Regions from separate parts of the Homo sapiens genome. Here region 1 is linked to region 2. The links come from fine-mapping of genetic effects on gene expression. A gene starts in region 2. The other region holds a variant in brackets. All regions are shown on one strand. Distances are from middle to middle.

Evidence for each region. PIP is the estimated chance that this variant, and not a neighbour inherited with it, causes the effect.
Region 1: its variant is the best candidate, but not a certain one, in a credible set for the expression of LINC00539 in whole blood (TOPMed, PIP 0.59).

The regions. Positions count from the first base shown.
Region 1 is chr13:21,322,302-21,326,692 of GRCh38, reverse strand. The region is part of intron 2 of LINC00539 (long intergenic non-protein coding RNA 539); the gene reads left to right. It also overlaps the pseudogene MIPEPP3. Among named protein-coding and RNA genes, the nearest start is that of LINC00539, 20 kb to the left of the region's middle. The variant T/A (reference allele first, on the strand shown) is at 2,664.
Region 2 is chr13:21,342,805-21,347,195 of GRCh38, reverse strand. It overlaps LINC00539 (long intergenic non-protein coding RNA 539), which reads left to right and starts at 2,337. Exons shown (of 3, transcript NR_103841.1): 1 at 2,337-2,530. It also overlaps the pseudogene MIPEPP3. RefSeq lists a silencer at 396-599.

The DNA of each region.
Region 1 (4,391 bases), 21 kb after region 2:
TTGGGGAGCCATCTCCGCCTCGGGGCTCGCAGACAGGGCTTCTCTGCCAAAGCAGCACCTCGGGGCGTGTTCTCCCACCCATCTGTGTTCAGGCATCCCTTCCCTCGCATCTGGATTTTGTTTAGGCCTATTTGCAATTCCTTAAAAAAAATCTAAGAAATAGTTGGAGCCTGAAAGAGAGCTGGCCAATGAAACGCCCCGTTGGGGCATTACCGCATCGGTGAGTGGCTGCCCTGAGGCGATGGCTGCGTTTCCGGGGCACCGCCGTGCGCCGGTGCCCACGCGTACCAGGCTTCAGGGGAGCACTCGGGAAGCGCGGGGGGTCGCGTGCCCTTGGCCGGAGGCCTGGTCGCCCGCTGGCCTCGCCATTCTCGGCTCCGCTGCTGTTGCCTGCGCGCCTGTGGCGGAGCAAGCCTGCCTCCAGGGCAGCCTCACTGCCGGGATCCTGGGCAGACCTCCCACGTGATAACCGTGATCACGGTGTTGATGCTCACTCTGGGGCAAGGGTGCTCACGTGTTCTCGTAATTGGGCGGAGTAGCCCTTCCTTCAAAGTCAGCCCCGGTCCCCTTGCACTGTGCAGCCCCTCTCTGCCGGACCCTGCCCGCATTAAATCTCCCCTTAACCTCTAAAATGCTCATTGCCAGCGCCCTTCGTTTGGTATTTGTAGCAGATACTGTCTCCTGCTGTAGCGCCATGTCTGTTCCCCCTTTCTACCATGATATAAAACCTCCTGATTTTTAGCTGGGCGCATGGTTCTGGAATCATGACTATGTTCCCAATTCCCTTGCAACTAGATGTGACTAAGTTCTGGCCAATGGGATGGTCATGTTCTACTTCCAGGAAGTGTCCCTAAAATAAGGGAATATGTCTTTTTAGGTCCCTTCCTCTCTCCAGCTGTCTGGAATGGAGCTACCATGTCTGGTGCCCAAGCAGCCAGCTCTGACCCAGAGTTAACATATTATGGATTGTGGAGCCACAGGATGGAGTAGCCTGGGTCTGATGGTTCTGTTAGTCAAGGCTAGTCAAAGAAGCAGGACCAACAGGAAATACATATGTTTATGTATGTATATGTTATGTATATGCTATGTATACACATACACACACACACAGATACACAGAGAGAGAGAGAGTTAAGAAAGTGGATCATGTGATTGTGGGGCTGGCAAGTTCAAAATCTGCAGACCCACAGAAGAGCTGATGTTGCAGCTCAAGTCTGAAGGCAATTTGGAGGCAGAATTCCCACTTCTTCAGGGGACCTCAGTCTTTTCTCTTAAAGCCTTTTACTGATTGAATGAGGCCCACCCACATTATGAAGGGTCATTTGCTTTACTCAAAGTTTACTGATTTAAATGTTAATCACATAAAAAAAACCTTCACATCAATGCTGGTGGGTGATTGAAGGTGGTAAGCAAGGAGTGCCAAGGTCAAATTTGGATTTCAGAAAAATCTCTCTGAAACCAGTGATGGGTAGAGGAGAGTGAGATTGCAATCAGAGAGTCCGGTTAAGGGTTGATGTATAAAGATAGGTAGAAGATAGATACAAAGGGACAGTGGATGGTGGGAAGAGGAGAACTGAACAGCACATTGGCAGGAGGAATAAGGAAGAGGGAAAACCGAGGGAAAATCCCAAGTGTCTCATTTGAGAGGCTTAGGGGGATGATGATGTCACCAACTAAAGTCGAGAATGCAGCTGATTTCCCCTTTTGTGGTGGTGAGCCTGGTGCAGCATGAAACAATTCATTTGCTTTTAGGCATGTTGAGTTTTATCTGCCTTTGAGACATCCACACAGGGATTCCAGCAGGCAGTCTGATATGCTAGCATGGAGCTCAAGTCTGGTTGGAATCCAGATTTCTATGTCTGTTTCCATCCAGCAATTAAATTTCCAAGAGCAGTGAACCTTCCCATCACACTTGCATGTCTCGGTCCTAGATCTTCCAAACACGCATGACTATTTGCTTTTGTTTTCCTTTTTGGCCATGTTATCCCAATAAGATCAATTTCAGAAAGGATGTAGGCACCATTGAGGACCCCTTGCTGCACGATAAAGACCCAACTGTAATTCATAACAGACATGAATCGTATTCTACTGTTCTGGGGGTCTAATTTTTTTTTTTAATTCAGAATCTTTGAATCTCTCCCCCAAAGACCTAAGACTAGCTTGAATGTTAGAAGGATCTGTCTCTGGGCTGTATGGAGAAGTGTGGCTGCTATATGAGAGCAGATTCTCATGGAAAAAACATTTTTCCCCCATGGAATTTTCTTCCATGAGTCTAAACCCATCCTGGCTCAGGGCCCTCCCAGTCTCCTGCACTGAGCAAGCAGGTAGGGAGAGAGAAAAGAGGGGTGGTCTGGAGTTTTAGGATCTGCATTTGAATCTCTCCTCTTGATTTGTGACCCTGGGCAAGGCTCTGCCAATCTCTTGTTACCTAGCACCTGGTCTATGCCAGGTCCCAGAGCTTTTTGGGTTCTATCTGGGCCTCAGCATCCACATTGGACAAAAAGGGTAAATATTCCTGCCATGCAGGGTTATTATGACAAATGCAATGAAATAATAAATGTGGAAGGGCTTCTCACAGTGCCTGCCTCAGAGTGGAAACTCAATAAATACTAGGGCATTCTGTGTCTGAAAATCTCACCTCTAATTATTCTCTTTTCCTTCCC[T/A]ATTATACAAAACAGCAGCAGCAGTAACAGCGACCACAAAATGCACTCCAAGATACTTCTAACCATTTCTTGCTGGGGGAATGTTTGCATCCTTGGTTAGTTAAAACTTTTGTGTTCCTCCCATGTCAGAAGCCCCTGGATCTTGTGTGAAGCTGTGCATTCCCTGATTAGTTTGTTTCTGTCCTTCTGTGGCTTGTTCTAAAGGGCTTTGCTGCTGCCTTCATCTGGGGAAATTCACACACTAATGCAGTGGTATCTCATCCCAATCTATTAGGTGTGACAACTACTGGCAAGAAATAGATTTGTGTTTAATTCTTTGTTGCCCAGCAGGGACCTCTATCACCCAAAGGGAAACAGCCGTCTATCTACGAAGCTGTGATCTCCCCTACAAGCAAGAGAACTCAATTGCCAGGAGGTCTTTGCTTTTTCTGGCTTCCAGAGAATGCAGAAATTTCAAGGAGCCACTATTGGGCTCCTTCCCTATAGGATGTTGGGCCAGGCAACAGAACAAACCTCCTGAGGCACTTCTACCTGGGAATGCCCTCCTGAGGCCAATGGCAGCCCTCTGATGAAGATACTATAGTATTTATTTTTTGTACACGCTGGTGATCATCCAGTGTACATCTCTGCTTAGTGAACCTTCATGAACTGGAGGCTGAATATTCTCATCCTGCATTGATAGAACCACGTAGGCTGGTTCTAGGCTGTTTTCTGTGCAACACTCAACATGACAATAATAATGATGATGATGCTAATGATGATTGTAAAATCCGCAGTAGTTGCCATTTATTGCCCTATTTGGCTTGTAAGACTTGGCAGATCACAGTGACATACACACACACACACTCTCTCTCTCTCTCTCTCTCTACTGTGTGCCAGGGACTGGACAAAGCACTTTGCATGCATTATAACACTTTTCCTAACAATCCTGCAGCAGGCAGCAGTAGCATCCCCGCTTTATAACTAAGGAAGGTAGAGTTCAAAGAGGTGAAGAACTTGCCTTGAAGTTCAAGGCCATACAGCCCAAAGTGGCAGAATCAGACCTGTACCCAAGTCCATCTGCACAAAGCTGGCGCTTCCACCCTGTACAACATGGTGTGTTTCCAGTGGGCTGTGACTCTCTGGTGGTGGAACCAGCCTTGTCAATTGCTGTCTGCCACATCCAGTCTGACCTGGCTGCCTGGGCATTCTCCCACGCCACGGGCAGCAGTGGTTCTTGCTGCCAGGGCTCCAGGGCATGGGCAGCAGATGGGAGGGAAGGAAGGCCAGCTGTGCAGCTCTGCCAAGCTGAGAGGCGGGGTGCCTATTGATTGACTGAAATTCGATTTGTTGACACAAACTGCCAGCATTTCACAGTGATGAAAGGATGGCCCACCAACCTCATAACAAGCAGAGATTTCCCTGAGGGTCACCAGAGCTGCTGATGTGGCTCCTCTGTGAGGAGAAGAAAGCAATTAGGAGAATGGATGAGGTTATTAGGTCTTATTGCTTCCCTCAGCTCCTGCACACACTGAGTGCTGTGCGGCGTGGGATTTCAGGCTCCCTGTCCTACGTGCTGCGGATTCTGTTTGCGCCTCTTCCACTGCAAAAAGCCAGCTGGGGGACAAACAGCTCATGTACGCTGACTCCAAGCATGTGGAGAATGCACACACAGATTTAGGACACCAAAAGAAACCTGCAGGTGGAACCAGCTTTAGCAGACTTTAAAAATAACAAGATCATTGGAGT
Region 2 (4,391 bases):
GGGCAGTGTCCCATTACAGCCAGACCCTAGCATAGTACCAGGCTCTGCAGGCTCTGTATCACTTTCCCAAGGCCCAGAGGGGGCACACCACAAAATGCTGGGGGCGTAGGAAGAAGATATCAGAAATTCTAGTTGTGATTTCCTATTATCCTAGTAAAATATCAACTTTTATGTCATTTGTGATGCATTTATTAGCTCAGTAGCACATTTATAGAATTTATAAATCAATAAACCTTCGCATTGTGGAACACATGCTTAAGTTCATTTTACTGATATTGAAAATGAGGAAAAAGACTAGAGTCACATGTTCAAGACAGTGACCAGGGTCCACCCCAGGGCTCCTCGGGGGCCAGAAAGGACGGCTTGCCGAGGGGGCCTCCATCTTCCCTGCAGCATTGTTTGTTCCCCGGGATCCTTCCAGGCCTGCTCGACTCTCATCTCAGTCCCCTGTGCATTTCTGTAGGAAGCTCACTTTTACTAGACCTGAGAGGGCTGGTTGTGTGCTCTGCTGCTGTTTGCCGTCTGCGGGGGCTCTCCAGTGGTCCAGTGGGCATTACAGGAGCACAGGGAGGATGAGGGGAATGAAGCGGGGAGTGAAGGGCACACACACTTAGACCCCACCGGCCACCTACAGAAGGCCTGAGGGGACAGCCCTTTCTGAAGTGATGCCTTCCTCTGTTGGGAAGCCAGGAGCCTCCCCTGGTGGGATCCATGAGGCCCTGGGTGTGGGGCAGGATATGTGGGACGGGCACAGAGCCCCTTCCATTTCCTTCTCAGGCCAGAATCATAACTGTCCATGCATTCCTTAAAAGCAGAGAGGGACCCTCTCCTTCCCCATCCATCAACAGCCTTCGGAGTCTAATTACATGCACGGAGCTTCAGTTCCCTTCTCTGTAAAATGGGGCTAATACTAATAAGACCTCTTCAGGGCAGTGTAGGAAGTCAATGAAACTCCAACATCTCCAAAACCACCCAGCAGATCACAGGATCTTGAAGTAAGCACAGTGTTTGGCATACAGTAGGCGCTCATCAATGCTGGTTCCTTTCACTCTCTGCCACTTGCTGGCTATGTGTGACTTAACCTCCCAATGCCTCCGTTTCTTCATTTTGAAGTGAAAGATGATGCCTATCCTCAACTTCAGACGAGATCCGGCACGTTCAGGGTGGTATGGCCGTAGACCCCAACTTCAAAACAACAGGCACACCCATTCAATTCAGGTAGCACCCTCCAAATGTGCCATGGGCTTAAGAGGCAGGAAGAGAGCCTGGTATGAGCCCACGGCTTCGGCTCCTGTTGCTCACTCTCTGCAGATCCTTGTGCAGTTCTCTGGGGTCACTTGCTGGTCTTTTTGAGTTTCAGTTTTCTTATTTGTAAGCTGGGGATGGTCATATCTCATTAGATTTTTTGGAGGACTAAATGGGACAATAAATATAAAACGCTCAGTACAAAACTTAGTCTATGGTCAGTGTTCAACAAATACTAGTCACTGGTAATAGTAGAACCACCTGCATTATGACACTATTATTTCTAGGCTCTTATGAGGATTCTCATTTACCAGGCATACTAGCCCTGCAAAACGGACACTATTGCTTCCATTATACAGATGAGGAAACTGAGGCTCAGAGAAGCTAAGTAACTTCTTCAAGGTTGCCCAGGCTGGGCGCAGTGGCTCATGCCTGTAATCCCAGCACTTGGGAGGCCGAGGAGGGCAGATTACTTGAGGGGAGGAGTTTGAGGACAGCCTGGCCAACATGACAAAACCCCGTCAATAAAAAATATAAAAATCAGCCAGGCGTGGTGGCACATGCCCGTAGTCCCAGCTACTCAGGAGGCTGAGGCAGGAGAATCGCTTGAACCAGGGAGGCAGGACTTGAGCATGCCACTGCACTCCAGCCTGGGCAATAGAGCAAGACTCTGTCTCAAAAACAACAAAACAAAACCAAACCAAAAAAAGGTTGCCCGGTTGCCCAGTGACAGAGCCAAGTCTTGCTTTCCAAGCTTGGGCTCACTCTCCTACACTAACTACCTGGCCCCATGCTGCCCAGTCCTGGGCTAGCTGCAGGAGGCTGCCGCATTACCCACCTCAAGCCACACAAGCACTGGCAGTAACAAGAGGCCGTAGAGAACCTAGAGTTCTCCAGCGGATGTGGTTCTCTGGCTGCCGTGGGCTGCCAGGGATCCCTTAGATCGCGGACTCCACAGTTCTTTCTTGCCACCTCCAGAAGGAGGCTGCAGCCCCATGAGCCAGGCAGCAGGAAGGGAGGAAGTCTCGCTTCTTGCCAGACACATTGTTTAACTGCAACAGTCAGTCCTCCAAAAACTCTGCCGGAAGTCCACCCCAGAAACTCAAGGGAGGAAACTGACTGCCTTCTTGGGGTTTTCTTAACTGTGCTTTTTCTGCTCTGCAGGAAAGATGCAACCTGGGCCAGAGGCCCCTGGAGGTTGTGCCTGAACCCAGACAGATCACACAAACCTGAGCAGCCATTAGCCGCTGTGTGGGCTCCTTTGCACTGTGGGGCTGCTCCTGGGGTAAGTGTGTGTCTTTGTGTGTGTGTGGGGTTCGGGGGCTGGGATGGCTGACTTACAAAGGACACGCTGTGGCCCAGCCCTGGGCAGCATCCAGCCTGCTTAGGTGGCCTTCTGTGGGCTTGGCCAAAAACACTGAGGCCTTTCTCTGTTTCACCTTCTTGTGCCAACTTGGCTGTGTGTGAACAAAGAATCACAAGCACACACCTGAGTTCACACTTGTGTAAAATTGGACTGAAGAGCTTGGTGAATCAAAGTTCAAGAAGGGTGACTTGGCCGGGCATGGTGGCTCAGTCCTGTAATCCTAGCACTTTGGGAGGCTGAGGGGGAGCAGATCACTTGAACCCAGGAGTTCAAGACCAGCTTGGGCAACACAGAAAGACCCTGTCTCTACAAAAAAATTTAAAAATTAGCTAGGTGTAGTGAGGTGTGCCTATATTCCCAGCTACTCTGGAGGCTGAGGTGGGAGGACTGCTTGAGCCTGGGAGGTTGAGGCTGCAGTGAGCTGTGATCATTCCATTGCACTCCAGCTTGGGTGACAGAGTGGGACCCCATCTCTTAAATTTAAAAAAGAGAAAGGAGAAGGAGAAGGAGGAGAAGGAGAAGGAGGAGGAGAGGGAGAGGAGAAGAAGAAGGAAGAGGAGGAGGAGGCGGGGGGGAGGGGGAGGAGGAGAAGAAGGAGAAGGGAGGAGATGGAGAAGGAGGGCACCTCAGAAGCCCTCAATAAAAACAGGGAGGAAGAGAACAAACACATCAAAGCTGCTGAGTCTGGTGCCAAGAGCAGGGGACTTAAAAGCTGTGTGACTTTGTCATTTGAGTTAACCTCTCTGATCCTCAACTTCTTGTTTGTGAAGTAGGAATAAGATTTTTTTGTGAGTTTGTTCTGAGGCTCATTAGTAACGTACGTAAAGCTGTTGGCTCCTGGTCTCTCTTATCATTCAGGGTTAAGCTTCGAAGTGGGCACAGGTGCTGGCAGCTATGGAATGGTGGGGAGGTTGCAGGGTGGGTCCCCTGGTCACAGAGAGCTTCTCACTGCCAGGGCTCAGAAGCCCCCTCACTGAGAGGCCTCACTGCCAGGGTTCAGAGCTCCCTCACTGGAGAGGGACTTCTTGAGTGTTGCAAGCTACATGGACAGACCATCTATGAGATCAAGCGTCCAGGCCCCTGGGCCAAGCAAATCTTGGGCCAAGATTGTGTGGCTTTAGGGGACATTATGGAGCCTCTGAGGGCCTCAGCTCCTCCTCTGTGAACTGGGGACTGTGGTGGTGATAATGGTACCTACGCATACAGAGATTGACAAGTACTGCTGAAACACAGCTAGGGATGTCTGTCTCACATCAAAAGGCTTTCAAACAGCTGTTTTTAATAATAATAATTATTAATTATATTATAGTTATTAATATTTACTTATATTATTATATGTAATAATTATATATTAATTACATTATCATATTAATTATTAAAAATAGAATAATAATTATTATTAGCCCTGGGAGAAGGTTATCATGAATTTTTTTTGGAGGGAGGTCAGATGACAGCTTGTCAAGGTAACAGAGTGCAAGAGAAGAGCCTGCCTCGGTTGGGGGTGGTCAGGGCCTGGGCACCCCACGGAGACACAGGGGAGCCTAGGGGAGGACTGAGACCCCTTCTCTTGCTCAATCAACTTTTTCAAGTCAACAGTGACATGTGTGCCAGGCTCTGACCCCTGATCACAGCTTCCCCTGACAGGGGCCTCTGTGGGGATGTCTCACAAGGCCAGGGAGGACCTGGAAACACATCCCTCCCATAGGCTACATCCCATCGTCAAAAGGAGACCTCGGGGGACCCACCTGCTCCTCCTGCCTGCCCCTGCCCCCAGCCCAGA